Linked DNA regions of Homo sapiens: all the other regions are reported to be linked to region 1. Evidence: microRNA targets listed by miRTarBase, many of them from high-throughput screens and not tested one by one. Region 1 holds a microRNA gene; each other region holds the end of a gene's coding sequence.

The links. The annotated mature microRNA hsa-miR-484 reads UCAGGCUCAGUCCCCUCCCGAU and lies in region 1 at 2,171-2,192, shown strand. An mRNA with a match to its seed (bases 2 to 7 or 8) in the 3' UTR can be bound and repressed. Matches are read on the target gene's strand: a 7mer-m8 pairs with bases 2 to 8, a 7mer-A1 pairs with bases 2 to 7 and ends in A, and an 8mer does both.
Region 2: the mRNA of RTRAF is a reported target of hsa-miR-484. The part of its 3' UTR that is shown has no 7-base or 8-base seed match.
Region 3: miRTarBase lists RPN2 as a target of hsa-miR-484. The part of its 3' UTR that is shown has no 7-base or 8-base seed match.
Region 4: the mRNA of MOB4 is a reported target of hsa-miR-484. Seed matches in the 3' UTR shown: 7mer-m8 at 709-715 and 7mer-A1 at 264-270.
Region 5: the mRNA of HK2 is a reported target of hsa-miR-484. Seed matches in the 3' UTR shown: 8mer at 847-854 and 8mer at 946-953.
Region 6: miRTarBase lists SQSTM1 as a target of hsa-miR-484. The part of its 3' UTR that is shown has no 7-base or 8-base seed match.

Annotation. Positions count from the first base shown.
Region 1 is chr16:15,641,131-15,644,233 of GRCh38, forward strand. It overlaps MIR484 (microRNA 484), which reads left to right and starts at 2,164; the gene lies at 2,164-2,242. MARF1 (meiosis regulator and mRNA stability factor 1) reads right to left here and starts at 2,024. Exons shown (of 27, transcript NM_014647.4): 1 at 1,888-2,024. It also overlaps a transcript of NDE1 not described here.
Region 2 is chr14:52,003,888-52,006,990 of GRCh38, reverse strand. It overlaps RTRAF (RNA transcription, translation and transport factor), which reads right to left. Exons shown (of 8, transcript NM_016039.3): 7 at 2,749-2,797; 8 at 1-2,629. The coding sequence ends at 2,475. NID2 (nidogen 2) reads left to right here. Exons shown (of 22, transcript NM_007361.4): 20 at 331-454; 21 at 1,142-1,254; 22 at 1,495-2,182. The coding sequence ends at 1,505. Among named protein-coding and RNA genes, the nearest start is that of RTRAF, 16 kb to the right of the region's middle.
Region 3 is chr20:37,240,951-37,244,035 of GRCh38, forward strand. It overlaps RPN2 (ribophorin II), which reads left to right. Exons shown (of 17, transcript NM_002951.5): 17 at 353-669. The coding sequence ends at 365. Among named protein-coding and RNA genes, the nearest start is that of GHRH, 19 kb to the right of the region's middle.
Region 4 is chr2:197,550,416-197,553,507 of GRCh38, reverse strand. MOB4 (MOB family member 4, phocein) reads right to left here. Exons shown (of 8, transcript NM_015387.5): 8 at 1-2,993. The coding sequence ends at 2,862. HSPE1-MOB4 (HSPE1-MOB4 readthrough) reads right to left here. Exons shown (of 9, transcript NM_001202485.2): 9 at 1-2,993. The coding sequence ends at 2,862. Among named protein-coding and RNA genes, the nearest start is that of MOB4, 36 kb to the right of the region's middle.
Region 5 is chr2:74,890,450-74,893,552 of GRCh38, forward strand. It overlaps HK2 (hexokinase 2), which reads left to right. Exons shown (of 18, transcript NM_000189.5): 18 at 348-2,910. The coding sequence ends at 492. Among named protein-coding and RNA genes, the nearest start is that of LINC01291, 17 kb to the right of the region's middle.
Region 6 is chr5:179,836,343-179,839,445 of GRCh38, forward strand. It overlaps SQSTM1 (sequestosome 1), which reads left to right. Exons shown (of 8, transcript NM_003900.5): 8 at 94-1,736. The coding sequence ends at 251. MRNIP (MRN complex interacting protein) reads right to left here. Exons shown (of 7, transcript NM_016175.4): 7 at 934-1,543. The coding sequence ends at 1,049. Among named protein-coding and RNA genes, the nearest start is that of SQSTM1, 17 kb to the left of the region's middle. RefSeq lists enhancers at 427-721, 503-652.

The DNA of each region.
Region 1 (3,103 bases):
TATGCAAAATGTGGCTAATTTCTCCCCGCCACTGCATTACAGAGAAAAAAAAAATTAGATAAATGAACCCCACTGTCTATTTTCACCACTGTATCTCTTGTGCCAACCAAAATGCTCCCTACTCTGTAAATACAAAGTAAACATTACCTACTACACACTATTGGGAGTGGTTAATTTGGAGATGGATTTAACTGCTACCACTGATAGTAAATTACGATTCTTGTCTTTCCTATTAGATACAGGTTTTATGTCCCCCAAAAAACTCCTCTCAAAATCGTAAGAATCTGTGATATTCACAGTGTTCATAACTTAAACATTCTCTCAAACTTCTTCAAAGCCAAATCCTGAAAGTGAGCTAACATTCACAGTATAATCTAGTTTATAAAGTATTTTCACTTAACATTACTTATGTCTTCATTCAGCAAATATTTACTTAGTATCTACTATGCAGCAGGCCTGTGCTTGGCACAAGGAATATAATGATGAAAAAAACCCAGACGGTGGGATCCTCTTATATAATTTTTGCAATAATCCTGTGAAATAGACAGGGGAGAAATTAGCTACATTTTTGCAGAGAGAGAAAAAGAAACTTAATGAAGTTTTGTAGCGAGCCTGACACAAGATTAGGCTTGTTCACCCCTTTCCACTACATCAAGGTGCCTTCAATACTGCTCAATACAAGCGATTAAAAGTAAAAACTTTCAGGTGCCTGCACCCTGAAAACTTCCCAAATACCATCCACGAAGCAACTTAGGTAGCCAAAAGCAGGTTCTGTTTGACTTGAGCGACAGTCTCCTTTCTGTCACTCTCTTCAAGTCTTTTGACCAATTCAATGAGGAGAGCATAGGCTCTGTCGACTGTCTGCATTTTGGTCTCCAATTTGACTGCGGTGCAGCTTTGGACAACTCACAACCTCTCTGAACCTCAGATCCCATCTCTAAAATGGGTGTGATAATAATAGAAACCACCTTACAAGGCCGTTGTTTGGATTACATGAGGTAATCCACGGGGAACATTTAGCAAATGTTGTTTCCTTAGCACCCAATCTAGTCTTTGACCCCACACCACCCCATCCCATTACCGTTTTCTCCCCCATAGCTCTTCTGTCCAAAACGGCCTTTTTAGCTTATTTTATTATCTTTCTCCCCCATTAGGCTATAAACTCCATGACAGCAGAGACTATGTTTTCTTATCCACTATTCCAACTCCTGTCCTTAGTACAATGCCTGGCATATTTTAATAAATAACTGTTGAACGAATAAAGCTTAATAAATAGGAAAACAGTTTAGGTTTCAATACACCGATATGCAAAAGAGAAGAATATTTACCGCTCAGAGAAGTCCAAAAGACACAAATGCAATTGGACAGCTCTTGGTAATACCGGAAAGGTGCTTGAGAAACTCTAAAAGGTGTATCACGAGGTCGCGTTACAACTACTAGTGAGAGTGGCTGAAGCCCTAGACATTGTCAACCCTGAGACTACACCCTATGTGTTGCTAAAAGGCCGAGGAGAATGCAAAACGGCCGGGGAGGGGGGAGTGTGTTGCAAAAACACCCGCCCCTTTCCTTCTCTCTTAACCTTCCAGCTGTGCACTTCACTCCTGGAGGGCCCCACCAGGGGTCAGACAGGGGCGGGCGGGGAGCCAAATGCCCTCGAAGGGGAACAGCGGCGCCAACAGTGACAGTAGTGAATGGACCCGAAAGGGAGACAAGCCAACTCTTTCGTGGGGGGCCCAACTGGCGCGTCCCAGTTAGCTAACCTCCCCTCTCCACCACCATCCCACCAGCAATAGGCGGGGAAAGAGGGGACACTGTCCTCCGTCCCGCCCCGCTGGCCTCGGAGCAGAGCCTGCCGGGGTCTGGTCGCAGGACTGTCTGCAAACTCACCTCTGCCGCCGGCTCCACCTCCGCTCACATTCCGGCCCCGCCGCCTTCCCCCCGCCCCCCCCAGGCCCTTTGTTTTGATTCCCGACTCCGCAGCTCCCGCCGCCGCCGCCAAGCGCACCCTTCACTTCCGCTTCCGCACCGCACCGCCCCTGTCGCAAAACCGACGCCCTTCTCTCCTCTTCGCCCCGCCCCTTCCTCGCCCCGCCTCCGCCGCCGCGTCCTGTCCGCGCGGGGCATGCTGGGAACCCCGGGGGGGGCGGGGCCTCGCGGCCCTGCAGCCTCGTCAGGCTCAGTCCCCTCCCGATAAACCCCTAAATAGGGACTTTCCCGGGGGGTGACCCTGGCTTTTTTGGCGAAAACCCCCAGTTTAAGGAGGCCTTCCCCCTGGCTTCACGTTGTGGAGTCGAAAGGAACCTTGAAGCGGAGAATGAGCTCGTGACGTGGACCCGAGGAAAAAACCTGCCAACCAGGATTTAATAGAATTCAGCTCTTTCAGGCTTTGGAGGGAAGGCGATTTGAACGGGATTTCAATGAAAAACCCTGTCCCTTCGGCTTTTTTTTTTTCCTCTCTCGGGTCTCGTCACGTGATGGTCCTACTTTATTTTTAAAAATTAAATGGCGCATATTCCCCAGCATCCTAAATCTAGTGCAACCTAGTGGCAAGTGGAGAAAAAAATAACTGCCAACCTGGCTTCCTACGAGGTCCCCCGGAGTTCTCGCAAAGTTGCGACCCAGTTGGCAAAAATACAGTGTGTGCAAAGACTCAACTGGACATTGCCACCAAGAATCAAGAGATTTTTGGGGACTTTAGCAAGAAAACGTTATTTTTAAAAGCCCTGCTCCAAAGCTGGTTACAAATGAATACTGCGTTTCCAGTGACAGGTTGGGCGAGCAGAAAGGAAATCTTACGGTTAGTTTCAAACACTTTGTGTTTTAGGTGGCCAGATATGCTGTGTGGTTTGCTTTAAAAAAAAAAATAGCGCCCCACAATCTTCACGTTTCCCTGGAATAAAAAAAAATTTAAGACTCAGCAAAAGGGTGATTTCTGAAACTACCAGCTGATTACTATTTTCTGTTGCAAATTAGGAAAAAAGCAAAGCACATATTGTGTAAGTTAAATCTAGACACGATTTAGGATGTGCTAGCTGCTAGCTAAATGCTACCTTAGGAGTTTATTTTTAAAGTTTGCCCAGAAACAAGTTGACTTTGCAAAAGA
Region 2 (3,103 bases), not on the chromosome of region 1:
AAGTATTTACCCAGATGTTATAATTTATAAGCTAAGGCTTGAAATCACACAAATTATAAAAATAATTATGTTTAATGCCCTACTTTGGCAGAAACTTACCAGATTTCAGTAAATGCAATCCTGTCTTCCAAAAAAGGATTGAAAGTTTGAATCTCTACTAAAAACTGGAGACTAGTAATAGGACAGGTAATTTTACAGTTGCTAATCTATGACTGTAATGGAAGTAAAATATCCTATTTCCCCATTCTATCACTGTGTCACTATCACTATGTCACTATCATTTTTGGCAAAGCAGCTGAAGGACCTCATTTTCCCCCTTTGTTTTAAAAGGAACCAAAAAACTGGAGTGTACACTACCTGATGGAACTGGACGGCGTGTCATTCAAAACAACCTCAAGTACCCCTTCAGCATCGTAAGCTATGCAGATCACTTCTACCACACAGACTGGAGGAGGTGAGCCCCACAAATTCTGGACAAGCCTGAAAAGGCCAACTGTTCCAGAGGACACACCACTTGTTTTACCAAAAGTCAGTACCTGACTTGACTCATTAAGCCCTCTGAGGCTTTTGTTTCATCACCTCCTCATTGGCAGATAAGATCCTTCAAGGATGTTTTTCATCCTTTCATGTTTTTGAAATCATCCTTTTACTTCACCCAGAAATCGAATGGTATTGCTCACATATAGCTTAAAAAGTAGCAAAGCTATTGGATAATGTCTCAAAAGGGAGCATATTAATCTAAATATGTTCTTTAGAGAATAAGACTACCCTTGATACCATGAGCTATATTACAGGGCTTAAGTTGGCTTTTGACACTGTGGACATATTGTCTGAGGGACCGAAAAATACTATTTAGACTAGTTCTCAAATGAGGAACTGTGGAACATTAAAGTCTAAGCCCTTTACACCATGCCCTACAACTCTGATTTGATAGCTCATCATGTGATTCTAACATGCAGCTAGAGATGAGCAATGGATTTAGAGCAATGGTCTTCAAACTTCAGTATGGCTTTAGCACCAGCCCTGGGACAGAGAAGGCTGCCAGAAATTTTCCTCTATTGCAACTGATTTTCTGTGGCTGACTGACTTCTTTATCTAGTAAATGACTGTCCCTGAATTCACTCTTCCTTTCTGTTACCAGGGATGGTGTTGTATCAGTAAATAAACATAGTGGCCAGTTTACTGATGAGTATCTCCCAGAACAACGATCTCACCTCTACGGGATAACTGCAGTCTACCCCTACTGCCCAACAGGTAAAAAGTATGCTTTAGGATGCTCCTTTAAATTAGCAGGGTAGAGAAGGGATATATATGGTATTTGATTACCCCTGCTGCCTGTGACACTGCCACCATTGCCTTCTTCCTGCCCTGAGGGCCAGTCTTTACTACCTTAAATCTACCTAGTTTATACACAAAATGCAAAGACTTGCTGTTGCAACTTGGTTACAATATACTCACCCACCACCCTGTCCCACCCCTGCTCTTCTCTCACAGGAAGAAAGTAAGTACAGTAATGTAAAGGAAGACTTGGAGTTTACAATCAGAACCTGGACCCTAAAGAACAGTGACTGCAAAGGCAAAGAAAGTAAAAAAGGAATTGGCCATTAGACGTTCCTGAGCATCCAAGATGAACATTTTGTAGTGCAAAAAGACTTTTGTGAAAAGCTGATACCTCAATCTTTACTACTGTATTTTTAAAAATGAAGGTTGTTATTGCAAGTTTAAAAAGGTAACAGAATTTTAACTGTTGCTTATTAAAGCAACTTCTTGTAAACATTTATCATTAATATTTAAAAGATCAAATTCATTCAACTAAGAATTAGAGTTTAAGACTCTAAACCTGATTTTTGCCATGGATTCCTTCTGGCCAAGAAATTAAAGCACATGTGATCAATATAACAATATAATCCTAAACCTTGACAGTTGGAGAAGCCAATGCAGAACTGATGGGAAAGGACCAATTATTTATAGTTTCCCAACAAAAGTTCTAAGATTTTTTACCTCTGCATCAGTGCATTTCTATTTATATCAAAAGGTGCTAAAATGATTCAATTTGCATTTTCTGATCCTGTAGTGCCTCTATAGAAGTACCCACAGAAAGTAAAGTATCACATTTATAAATACCAAAGATGTAACAATTTTAAAATTTTCTAGATTACTCCAATAAAGTGTTTTAAGTTTTCCTATGACTTAAGGATCTATATTGTCTCTAGGACAAAGCTGGGGGTTGGCATATATGCCTTAACCACAAAGGAGAAAGGTGATTTATGCAAACATACAGTACATAATAAAAATTCTACTTTCCTAAACTTTATTAAAGAAAAAAGCAATAAGCAATGGTGGTAAATCTCTAGAACATACCCAATTTTCTGGGCTTCCTCCCCCGAGAATGTGACATTTTGATTTCCAAACATGCCAGAAGTGTATGGTTCCCAACTGTACTAAGTAGGTGAGAAGCTGAAGTCCTCAAGTGTTCATCTTCCAACTTTTCCCAGTCTGTGGTCTGTCTTTGGATCAGCAATAATTGCCTGAACAGCTACTATGGCTTCGTTGATTTTTGTCTGTAGCTCTCTGAGCTCCTCTATGTGCAGCAATCGCAGAATTTGAGCAGCTTCATTAAGAACTGCATCTGTTTTATGAGAAAAGAACACTGCTTCAATACATAATTTTTACATTTAAGGCCATTTATTTCCTCCCAAGTATTCAGTCTGTAAAAAAAATAGTTTGAATTTAAACAAAATCACTTACCTCCTGTGTCAAAACCAAGAATATGTTTGTCTAAAGCAACAGGTAAGCCCTTTAAAAAAAGAAAGACAAAATGAGAGTATTTATGGTTAAGAATAGCATCCTTTCCTCAACTGAAACTGAAAAGCACCTAGCTATTCTGGTGTCTTAACTCTTTTAGCTGCATGGGCAAGGGAACTAGGAATTTTGTTTATATTTGCTTTGTGATGATTGTGATTAGCGAGTTTTCCCTATTTCAACCGGTTAGGGGGAAAAGTTAACCTTTAAATGTACCAGGAAGCTCTATAGCTCATCCAATCCTTTAGCCCAGGCATACAAAACAATATATCCTTATTGCAGCAGTGCCTTGTCATTACTG
Region 3 (3,085 bases), not on the chromosome of region 1:
GTTCATCTAATTGAAATTTACACTGTGTTTTTGGCCTTGCACTGTGAGAGGTGTGCCTGGAATTACCTCATCTCCTTATGTTGTCACATACCACTTTCTTAGTTATTATTGAGTTTGTTTTGTTATTTGTATTTAAGTTGTCATCAGCTTAATTATGAACTAGCTGTCTCACATTCTTTTGTAAAATGAGATGGGGCATACATAAATAGACTTGGGAGATAAATGATTATTCCCTTATAAATGGGATCTTAGAGCGGGAGAGTACCTTAGTCTCTCTGTTGTCACCAGTTAGGAACTGTAACTGTGAACTGAAACCTTCAGTAATTCTGTGTTTGTCTCCATTTTCTTTCAGAACAGCACATTAGTTCCAGAAGAAAGATGGAAATTCTGAAAACTGAATGTCAAGAAAAGGAGTCAAGAACAATTCACAGTATGAGAAGAAAAATGGAAAAAAAAAACTTTATTTAAAAAAGAAAAAAGTCCAGATTGTAGTTATACTTTTGCTTGTTTTTCAGTTTCCCCAACACACAGCAGATACCTGGTGAGCTCAGATAGTCTCTTTCTCTGACACTGTGTAAGAAGCTGTGAATATTCCTAACTTACCCAGATGTTGCTTTTGAAAAGTTGAAATGTGTAATTGTTTTGGAATAAAGAGGGTAACAATAGGAACAAAGGCCTGATTGAGAGCTTATTCTCATACTTTTGGGTGGTGGGGTCCTTGGGTATATGACATGAGGACTTAGTTGGAAATGCTGTTGATGCCAGCATATTTCTCCAGGCCTTTCTTGGTCCTTCTTGCCCCTTGCTCCTAACAGAACTGAGAACTGCCTGGAAAGGCCAGCTTCCTTTTTTCTTCTCCAGCAGTGAGCACCAGCTGTCTGCATAGGAGCCCTGTTGGTATCTGAAGGCCCCATTTGGACCTCTAGGGGTCCAAGGGGATAGGTTTTTATCCCCTTTAACATTTTCTGTGAGCTGAGTCCCATTTTTGAGAATCTTTCTGTGTTAGGTTAGATACTGAGTGTGACTTGGCAAGAACACAGCTAAACAACAGGAATGTGCAGGTGGACTGCAGCTAGGACCTCTGCTCAAGGCTCTTGTCTTGGGGCCAGGCATGGAGGCTCACGTCCGTAATCCCAGCACTTTGGAAGGCCGAGGCAGGGGGATCACTTGAAGTCAGGAGTTTTGAGACCAGCCTGGCCAACATGGTGAAACCCTGTCTCTACTAAAAAACCAAAATTAGCCAAGGGGTGGGCATGGTGGTGCATGCCTGTAATCCCAGCTACTTGGGAGGCTGAGGCAGGAGAACAGCTTGAACTTGGGAGGCGGAGGTTGCGGTGAGCCATTGCACTCCAGCCTGGGCCACAGAGCCAGACTCCATCTCCAAAAAAAAAAAAAAAAAAAAAGACTTGCATGGAGATTTGTTGCAACATGAATTTTCAAGGGACACAAATTCAAACCATAGCACTGACCACTTGAGTGACTTTAGTCTAGAAGGCCACATCTCAAGAATGCCCCCTCTGAAGTTGTGCCCATTACATGAGGTTATATAATAGCACAGAGAGAAGTAATACTGCATAGCATGGTTGACTGCGTAGACTTTGGTTCCAGGCAAACCTAGTGTTGCCACTTACTAGGGTGAGGGACCTTGGGCAAGTAGTTTAACCTCCGTAAACCTCCTTTTGTGTTTCTGTAAAAGAGAGATGATAACTACCTACCTCATAGGATTAAAGGAGTTGAATGCTGACGCAGCTTAGCACTTGGCATCTTTCCTGATTGACCTACGGTTATGTGCCTTGGCCCATTGCCTCTAGTTCTAGAATGGCAAAAACTGCAATTACTTTTGCACCAACCTAATATTAATTGAAACATAATAAGTTTAGTTAACTTGTGAAATATGGTAATCCTCATAGTATTTATTGAATTGGGGGTCTGGAAGTTGTTTTATTTTAATCAGATTGCTTCCCAACTAGCTGGACCTTACTACAGTGAAGAAATTGGGATTTTGATTGGGAAAAAGGGAAAGAAGATTCTAGAACTCTATGCCGTTCTGAATGGGATCCTATAGGTAAGAGGATGATGTGGGCAGTTACAGGGATGCCTCTAAGATGGGAAGGAGGCTTCTCCTTCCCAGAGGTTGCAAACTTGTGATCTGTAGTGTTTTTTTAAAAATTGAGTAAGTTGCCAACATTTGAAGACAGATTTTATATAAAAATCTTGGTTTTGGATTCTGGATTCTCCTGAAAGAGAAAACTAGAGCTGTCCACGGCGGGCCTGATTCCTGAACGGCAGCAGTCAGCTGACACTGAATAGCAGCTCGTCCCTTTGGATGGAGCCTGCAAGCTCCAGCTTGTCAGCCCCTCCCCGCACAGGTGTCCACATACAGGACACTTGCGCCAGTCCACCTGGCGACTGTGCTTCTCTGATACCTGCCTGGCTCCCATAGGCATATACCTTTGGGATCCTCCACTTTTTAGTTTCTTATCCCACTCGGAGGGGAAGGGGTGATGGTGGTTTCCTGTTGCTCTTGGGCGGCTCCTAGTGTTCCTACTTAGGTGTGCTGGGACCTCAGCCGCTCAGACTGGAGAGGAAAGAGAGCCCCAGCAGCGTGTGGGATGAGAGCAGGGACACTTGCCACCTATCACCAGACCTGTGCGGGCCTGGAAGACAGACTGGGTGCGGGGCTGGTGGACAGTGGTGTGGAGCAGGGGTAGTAGGGCCTGAGGGTGGAAGTACAAAGGCTGCTGGGTGTCCTGGTCACTGGGAACAAAGGACAGCCAGTGGCTGGAAGGAAGGAAGTCGGGAAACAGCTTTTTGGAGAAACGGCTGGCACAGCTAAGTAAGGGGTTCCCGGGCTGGTTTGGGGCTGGCCTGCAGACTCAGATGGGAGCTGGAGAACAGAGCCCAGTAAACATTGCCATGTGCCAGGCTGTGTTCTGTGTCCAGAGCTACCACAGGGAGCAAGACAGATCCAGTCCCTTCCCTTGGTCCAGGTACAGCCCACGGGCACCCAGCTGAGGGAGAAAGGAAGCAGTGATCACACATGTGAGAAGGGCCTCAGAGGAAGCAGTTCTTACCTTGATGGCTT
Region 4 (3,092 bases), not on the chromosome of region 1:
GAATTTGACATCAACCAATAAATGTGTTTATAATCGTAACACAGTCCTTACTAACAATGTAATCAAGGATTTTTTTTTTTTGAGACGGAGTTTTTGAGACGGAGTTTTGCTCGTTACCCAGGCTGGAGTGCAATGGCACGATCTCAGCTCACCGCAACCTCCACCTCCCGGGTTCAAGCGATTCTCCTGCCTCAGCCTCACGAGTAGCACCACGCCCGGCTAATTTTTGTATTTTTAGTAGAGACAGGGTTTCTCCATGTTGGTCAGGCTGGTCTCGAACTCCTGACCTCAGGTGATCTGTCTGCCTTGGCTTCCCAAAGTGCTGGGATTACAGGCGTGAGCCCCTGTGCCTGACCAAGGATTTCTAATTGTATTCTGATAGTAAAAGTTGTTAAGTCATCAAGAATTTAACTGAGAAACTGTTCTAGAAATCCAAATTTGACATCTCAAGTCAGAGAAAAGGAAATGTATACACACAAAAGAAGGGTTACTTATGGGAACATAAATAGTTAAAAGTTAGCTACTTTCCCAGATGTGATAGGAGAAAAAGAATGAATTGACTATACGATCTTTTGGAAAGAAAAGCCTAAGTTTACCTTCGGATATACATAGGGTAATTCAAACAAAAAGTGGAGCCTAACTTCCTTATCACACAGAACTGTCTTGTTCCCCTCTTAGAACACTTACTTTTATAAATCAATGGTTTGCCAGGCTCATTAATTTTTTAGTAGTATTTATGTATATATAAGTACATTTTCAAAATTCTGAAAACAGTATTAAGGAAAAACAGGAACTGTTTCACTTAGGTCTTACCTAGTATAGTAGTGAATCAACTTCACAATTAGTAAGATTATCAACATGAATACAAAAGCAAGACTACAAACTGATTATTTTCTTTTGGAGATGTTTTATGATCAATTCCAAACATACAGTACAGGGAAGGTGAAATGAGTAAGAAAAAAAAATCATATTTAAGTCCCCGTTAACACTAAGCCATATTATTCAAAATGTGTTTCAAAATACTCAGCCAGATCACCAAATCTCAGTCACTACCTTAGTATAAATATTCACTAAGAAAATAGTCAAGCAACAGAAATCCATTGTGAGACACCATCTAGAGAGAACAGCTACACTGCTATATATAATTTATTAACTTAGTAGTTTAGTTTCTCAATATTTAGCAAGTTTAAAAATTACCATTACCATTGGTTTATAGTGCCATTAATATAAATCCATAATTTCAAAGTCATCATTCCTTTCACTGTGAACTAAGACTTCTTAAAAGATAGTTGTGGGTTGGGGAACAGTAATGACTGTAGCTGATGGGCAGTGTTCAAAGCCAAAAAGACTGGCAAGCTTGGAAAGGCATACACTATACATACACACACTCTCAGTATACTACTGTTCCCCTTATTTTTGCTGTACATTCTTGTCTGAAAAGATGGTATAAATTATTCCCTTAAATTTGAAAAAACAATTAAGATGAATACATTTTCATCTTCAAAATTATCCTTCTAAATAAAAAAGTTCCTCATGTTTGTTAAATCTGTTCAAAAGTTGGATTTAAATACTTTCTTCACAACATGTACAATGTTTTCACCCTTACTGCCTCATTACAATCAGTTTGGCAATAAGACCTCCAGTGCTTTATCAAAAATGGCATTCAATAGATTATAAGATTGTTAAATCTGCATTTCAATCATTCTTACCACAATGAATTATAACAAAGTCCAAAAAAATGTATGACTATTCATCAACACCCTTGGAACCTATGAATTATTGCAAATAATCTCACACGTGCATGTAATCCAAACATAAACTTCGTGGGAGAGGGGGTGTAAAATAAATACTATGGTATTTCTTCAATTCTATTTAATGCTGCCTAGCTGGTTAAATGAAAGATTAATATATTACTAACAGGAAGAGTCAAACTATTTTAAGGACTGTTTTCTAAGTAGAACAATTTTGCAAAACAAAGATAAGCAAGAGCCTATGCAAATACATTTTCTTGTAGTGTAATGTAATTGCTAATATGAGGTATAATCTGTAAGCAATTAATACAAATATAAATAGGTATAAGCCACCACTAACTCAGTCTGGTGAAAAGCTTCTCAGCTAAAGTAGTTTGAAGATAAGGTTAAGGGAAATGAGAAGGGGTGGACAGGGCAGGTTTCCAGTGGGAAAATAATTTATGTGCCTTACCATTGTGATCATCCTGTATGTACCAGTCCGTTGTTGCAGAACGGTAAATCCTTTCCAAGTATGTTATACTTTATGTAGCACAGTAAAATTATTTAAGTATTACTAATGCTTCATTTGCATTTGTATTTAGATATACACATAATTATATATGCATATCAAAAACTATAAACAGAATTTTAAAACACTTTTATCTCAATTGGGGAAAGTTAACAGGTAAGACAAAACTACGTACTACAGAATTTTTTAGGATATCTAAACTCAAGGTAAAACCAATAGAAAACATTTCTACCTCTTTAGTAAATGGCTTGTGTGAAACCTCAAGCTCTCCCTCATTTTTTTTACAGATGGGTTTGTCTGATGAGGATTGTGATCCAATGATTGTTTAGCAGCAATTTTACCAAACTGTAAATTCTTTTATTAACAGGCATTATAAACAGATAATACTAATCTTATTTAAAAACCATGAGTGCCACACTGGTGAATATACAGCTTATGAATAACTTAAAAAGTATTTCCCATTTTAAAAGGCAAACCCAGCATACAAAAACCTATACTAAACAAAGAAGCTATAATATGGATACATGATTGATGTGTCTAAAATGATATATACAGTACATAATGTTAATTATATGATCAGTACATTTTTCCTATGATTCCCTTCATGCTTCACTTTCCCCAGAAACTGAATTCTGTACTTCCTCTTCTAAAATTGGTACAATCAGGTTATCCTTGGACATCAAATTGTATTTCATCACAAACTTAGTAAACCGATGACACAAAAATGTTTCATTCTGTAGAGAGGAAGACAAAAATGTTATTTTAATTCACTATCCCAAACTAAAAGACTAGAAATAACATCAATATATATTACTGTTACACTGATAAGAATG
Region 5 (3,103 bases), not on the chromosome of region 1:
GGCACACTTGTGGCTTCCATGGTTGTTGAACTTCTCTTTTACTGACTATTAGTTTTAAGAACACAGTTTGCCAGGATCTCAGACGTTTGTCCCAGAATTGAATCCTAGCTCTCCTAATGGCTGATATGATGTGGAAATTGGGCATAGTACTAGTGTCTCCAAGCCACGGTTTTCTGGTACTTAATAATATATAGTAAATGTTTAATACATTATAGCTGTCATCCTTCTCCTCTTCTTAATTATTTCTGTGTTTCCAGCATCGCTTCTTAGCTTTCATTTCTAAGTGCAAATACAAACCAATCATGACTAAGATGGTTTTTCCTGTGTCTTCCTCCCACCTTTTCCAGCTTTGCCAAAGTCATGCATGAGACAGTGAAGGACCTGGCTCCGAAATGTGATGTGTCTTTCCTGCAGTCAGAGGATGGCAGCGGGAAGGGGGCGGCGCTCATCACTGCTGTGGCCTGCCGCATCCGTGAGGCTGGACAGCGATAGAACCCCTGAAATCGGAAGGGACTTCCTCTTTCTCTCCTTCTTCCCTGTTTTAAATTATAAGATGTCATCCCCTTGTGTCAGAGACAGACCCCTTGGCTTTTGCTTGGCAGAGAGGACCCCACTGGACTGGGTTTTGTCTCTGCATCTCATTGTAGAGCTTGGTGGCTGAGCTTGGCCCTATTAAGATAAATAGAGTTCCAAATAAGGATTTGTTCACATGCATCATAACCATTCCCATTGGTTCTCCTAAAACATGAAAATTATCTCCCTTAGTAATCCCCCTTGCCAAATTCCATGTCCCTGTATAATTCTACAGGATGGGGACACTAATGAAGATACGGTTGCTTCACCTTGGAGCCTGAACATGACATTTCTAAGTGGGGTGCATCCCCCAGCACTGATGTTGTTACTGATTCTCCTGTCAGAGATCTGGGAGGTCTCCACTGAGGATGTGAGCCTGATTATCCTATAGGCAGACGTGGGGAGGGTGGAGGGGTGACAGTGGAGGAAAATCCATGGATATCCACGCAGCAGCCCCTCTTTAACCTCATCTACAAGCATTTGCCCTGTGGATTCCAGCATTTGCCATTCCTGGAATCAAGGAATCCTGAGTCTGGGCAATGAAACCAAAGCCAGGAGTTGACGCATCCTGCAGTTGGGCCAGCTGTCGCATCTCAGCGGGGCGCACATGTTATCCACAAGCAATGGACCTTTGGGGAAGGGGGAGTTTTTAGTTTGTTTTACAAATTTTTCCTGCAAAAGTGGAATCACTGTATTTTCATTTTAATTTATATTTGAAATTTTATTTAGTTCTTGAGTAGATCTGCTTCTTCATCTTGACATGTAATGAATGGTCAGTTGTACGTAATGTATTTATATGTTAATTTGTTATGTATATAGATGTGCAAGTCTTGTCAGAATTGGCCTCAGTGTAGTTAAAGGGCAGAAGGGGAAGATACTGACTAGTCATAGAAATACCTCATTCGCCTGTGGGAAGAGAAGGGAAGCCTCTTCAGGGTGAGTGAATGGCAAAGCGGTTGCTTCTGGCTCCTCCTTCCCCTGTGGTCTTGGAAGTGTGTGGAAGGCAGGGACAGAGATGGAGGCCGAGCCAATAGACTGAAGAGACCACAGCAATTGGCTCCTCCATCTAGAGATTTTCTTGGCAGTATTCCATGGGATGTTAAGCAAAGGAAACCAAAGGAATCGTTTCAAATGGACTCATGGCTTAGAAATCTTTATTCTTAGGGCAGTCAGTAGTATTCTAAAGCTTTCTGACAAGATAAAGGAAGTCACCAAAATTTCTTTTTTTAAATTGTATCTAATCCTCAACAACAAACCAAAACAGAACAATTAAACAGCCAAATAAAACCTCAGGGACAACATTTTTGGTGTATTTGAGCCCTCCCAGCAAGTTTCACCTTGGGTTTGTATTTTAAATGTTTTACAAGAATTGTCCATGTGCTTCCCTAGGCTGAGCTGGCATTGGTCTGCTGACCTGTTTTTGTGTTTTTCTTTTTTTTATACACAACATTTATTTCAAACTATTGGGAGGGATGAGAGTGGCTTAAAAACTTCCATCCCTACTTTTCAAGAGTGCAGTTGATTCTGAATCTGAAAGCCCGCCTCTGTCCTAAAATACAAACAAGCACAGACATTAAACCTGGATACTATATGATAAAGAGGGATGTAACTATTGAATTGGATACAAGGATCAGAATGGAAAGAAACTCACGATGAAATTGAACCTGGTTTTTGTATATTTATCAAACTTGTGCTGAGAATAGTGTCTGATTATACGACTTTTAAGCAAAGTTGGGTGTAATTAGGTGAAAACAGCCCAGGTCCTCCCGGGAGCACAGAGGGGCTAGGGGCTGGTCCTTCTCGTTTGCTCTAGTCTTGCTTTGCTGTCTGGTGTAGCTCCTCTGCTGCTCCCATCTGCACTAATTGACCCAAAACGTGGGTATTTCCTGCTACACAAAAGCCAAAAGGTTTCATGTAGATTTTAGTTCACTAAAGGGTGCCCACAAAATAGAGATTAATTTTAACTTAAATTTTAAGCTTGAAGATTAGGTACTATCTGTGAAGTTACACTTTTTTTTTTTTTTTTAAAGGTAGAGATGTGTGTGTGTGTAGGTATTAAAGATGTGTTGTTGGTTTCCAAAAAGGAACACTGGAAAATAAATTTTGAATGTTTATGTTCTCAGAATCAGGTTGACAGTCCCTTGCTGACATGGCTTTGCTTTGTGTAAATACAGTGGATCTCAATCTTCGGGGTGTGATGAATAGCGAATCATCTCAAATCCTTGAGCACTCAGTCTAGTGAAGATGTTGTCATTATGTACAATACATAACTAGTTTAATTAACTATGTGATGTTAACTATTATTAATAAATTTTAACATTTTCCAAAATAATCAAATGTGATTCATGAGTGTTTTTAAGAGAGTAGTCATCTTCCGGTCGTATCAGTACTTCCTGGCCAGCCCGATGAGTAATTTATGGGTGTCTTGATTTTGAGTGTGTGTGTTTGAGAGGCATGTGGCTTTTCCAGAAACTCAGTCCCAGTGGAATTAGAAGGCAGCTTTTCCTGGACTGCCTTGGACCCCTTAGAT
Region 6 (3,103 bases), not on the chromosome of region 1:
CTGGTCCTGGCTGGCCAAGGCAGCAGGGTATGTGTTTCGGGTCACTCACAGGGCTCAGCACCACTCCTCATGGCTTCCTTACTGTTTCGGCAGAGGCTGACCCGCGGCTGATTGAGTCCCTCTCCCAGATGCTGTCCATGGGCTTCTCTGATGAAGGCGGCTGGCTCACCAGGCTCCTGCAGACCAAGAACTATGACATCGGAGCGGCTCTGGACACCATCCAGTATTCAAAGCATCCCCCGCCGTTGTGACCACTTTTGCCCACCTCTTCTGCGTGCCCCTCTTCTGTCTCATAGTTGTGTTAAGCTTGCGTAGAATTGCAGGTCTCTGTACGGGCCAGTTTCTCTGCCTTCTTCCAGGATCAGGGGTTAGGGTGCAAGAAGCCATTTAGGGCAGCAAAACAAGTGACATGAAGGGAGGGTCCCTGTGTGTGTGTGTGCTGATGTTTCCTGGGTGCCCTGGCTCCTTGCAGCAGGGCTGGGCCTGCGAGACCCAAGGCTCACTGCAGCGCGCTCCTGACCCCTCCCTGCAGGGGCTACGTTAGCAGCCCAGCACATAGCTTGCCTAATGGCTTTCACTTTCTCTTTTGTTTTAAATGACTCATAGGTCCCTGACATTTAGTTGATTATTTTCTGCTACAGACCTGGTACACTCTGATTTTAGATAAAGTAAGCCTAGGTGTTGTCAGCAGGCAGGCTGGGGAGGCCAGTGTTGTGGGCTTCCTGCTGGGACTGAGAAGGCTCACGAAGGGCATCCGCAATGTTGGTTTCACTGAGAGCTGCCTCCTGGTCTCTTCACCACTGTAGTTCTCTCATTTCCAAACCATCAGCTGCTTTTAAAATAAGATCTCTTTGTAGCCATCCTGTTAAATTTGTAAACAATCTAATTAAATGGCATCAGCACTTTAACCAATGACGTTTGCATAGAGAGAAATGATTGACAGTAAGTTTATTGTTAATGGTTCTTACAGAGTATCTTTAAAAGTGCCTTAGGGGAACCCTGTCCCTCCTAACAAGTGTATCTCGATTAATAACCTGCCAGTCCCAGATCACACATCATCATCGAAGTCTTCCCCAGTTATAAAGAGGTCACATAGTCGTGTGGGTCGAGGATTCTGTGCCTCCAGGACCAGGGGCCCACCCTCTGCCCAGGGAGTCCTTGCGTCCCATGAGGTCTTCCCGCAAGGCCTCTCAGACCCAGATGTGACGGGGTGTGTGGCCCGAGGAAGCTGGACAGCGGCAGTGGGCCTGCTGAGGCCTTCTCTTGAGGCCTGTGCTCTGGGGGTCCCTTGCTTAGCCTGTGCTGGACCAGCTGGCCTGGGGTCCCTCTGAAGAGACCTTGGCTGCTCACTGTCCACATGTGAACTTTTTCTAGGTGGCAGGACAAATTGCGCCCATTTAGAGGATGTGGCTGTAACCTGCTGGATGGGACTCCATAGCTCCTTCCCAGGACCCCTCAGCTCCCCGGCACTGCAGTCTGCAGAGTTCTCCTGGAGGCAGGGGCTGCTGCCTTGTTTCACCTTCCATGTCAGGCCAGCCTGTCCCTGAAAGAGAAGATGGCCATGCCCTCCATGTGTAAGAACAATGCCAGGGCCCAGGAGGACCGCCTGCCCTGCCTGGGCCTTGGCTGGGCCTCTGGTTCTGACACTTTCTGCTGGAAGCTGTCAGGCTGGGACAGGCTTTGATTTTGAGGGTTAGCAAGACAAAGCAAATAAATGCCTTCCACCTCACCGCAAACCTTCTGCTAAATTGCATGACCAGGCTTTCCAAAAACAAGACATTCTCATGTCATCAGGTGATCCATCTCCTGGGGACCTTAGAATCAGGTTACCGGTGCCTACAAAAGAATTTTGAGCAGAAGGGCCTCGAGACATCGGGAAAGGGGTGCGCTGGCTCCATTCTGCTACCTCCCACCGGGGGGCAGCTCTCCAGAGCCTGCCGGGTTCTGCAGCTGCAGAGGTGGCAGCACCGAGCTCCCTGTGGGATAGGACTGGTGCTGGGGTCTGGCTTCTCTCACCCCAGGAACCAAAGATGCTCTGAAAGTTGGGTGTCGGCCGGGCGCAGTGGCTCACGCCTGTAATCCCAGCACTTTGGGAGGCCAAGGCAGGTAGATCACCTGAGGCCAGGAGTTCGAGATCAACCTGGCCAACATGGCGAAACCCTATCACTACTAAAAATACAAAAATTAACCTGGCGTGGTGGCACGCGCCTGTAATCTCAGCTACTCGGGAGGCTGAGGCAGGAGAATCACTTGAACCTGGGAGGCAGAGGTTGCAGTGAGCCGAAATCACGCCATTCCACTCCAGCCTAGGCAACAGAGCGAACTCTGTCTCAAAAAAAAGAAAGTTGGGTTGTAGGCTGGGAGCAGTGGCTCATGCCTGAATCCCAGCACTTTGGGAGGCTGAGGCAGGCAGATTGCTTGAGCCCAGGAGTTTGACACCAGTTTGGGCAACATGGTGAAACCCCCTCTTCTACAAAAAATTAGCCAACTGTGGTGGTGAGTGCCTGTGATCCCAGCTGCTCGGGAGGATCACTTAAGCCCGGGAGATGGAGGCTGCTATGAGGTGTGATTGTACCATTGCACTCCAGCCTAGGTGACAGAGTGACACCCCATCTCAAAAACAAAAGGCTGGGTGCAGTGGCTCATGCCTGTAATCCCAGTACTTTGGGAGGCCGAGGCGGGTGGATCACTTGAGGTCAGGAGTTCAAGACCAGCCTGGCCAACATGGGGAAGCCCTGTCTCTACTAAAAATACAAAAATTAGCCAGGCGTGGTGGCGGGTGCCTGTAATCCCAGCTACTCAGGAGGCTGAGGCAGGAGAATCGCTTGAACCTGGGAGGCGGAGGTTGCAGTGAGCCAAGATCGTGCCATTACACTCCAGCCAGGGGAACAAGAGTGAAACTCCTACTCAAAAAAAAAAAAAAAACAACAGTTGGGTTGTGCTGCTTACAAAGGGAAAAGCAATGTGAAAGCAGCGATAGAGTGGGTCCCTGCAGCACTGCCACCCAGGCAGTACAGAAGAGGCTCTGCGGCCCTGAAACTTGACGTTGGCTTTGCCACTGAACTTGCCATGACTGCACAAAAACTGCAAGCCTCAGTTCCTC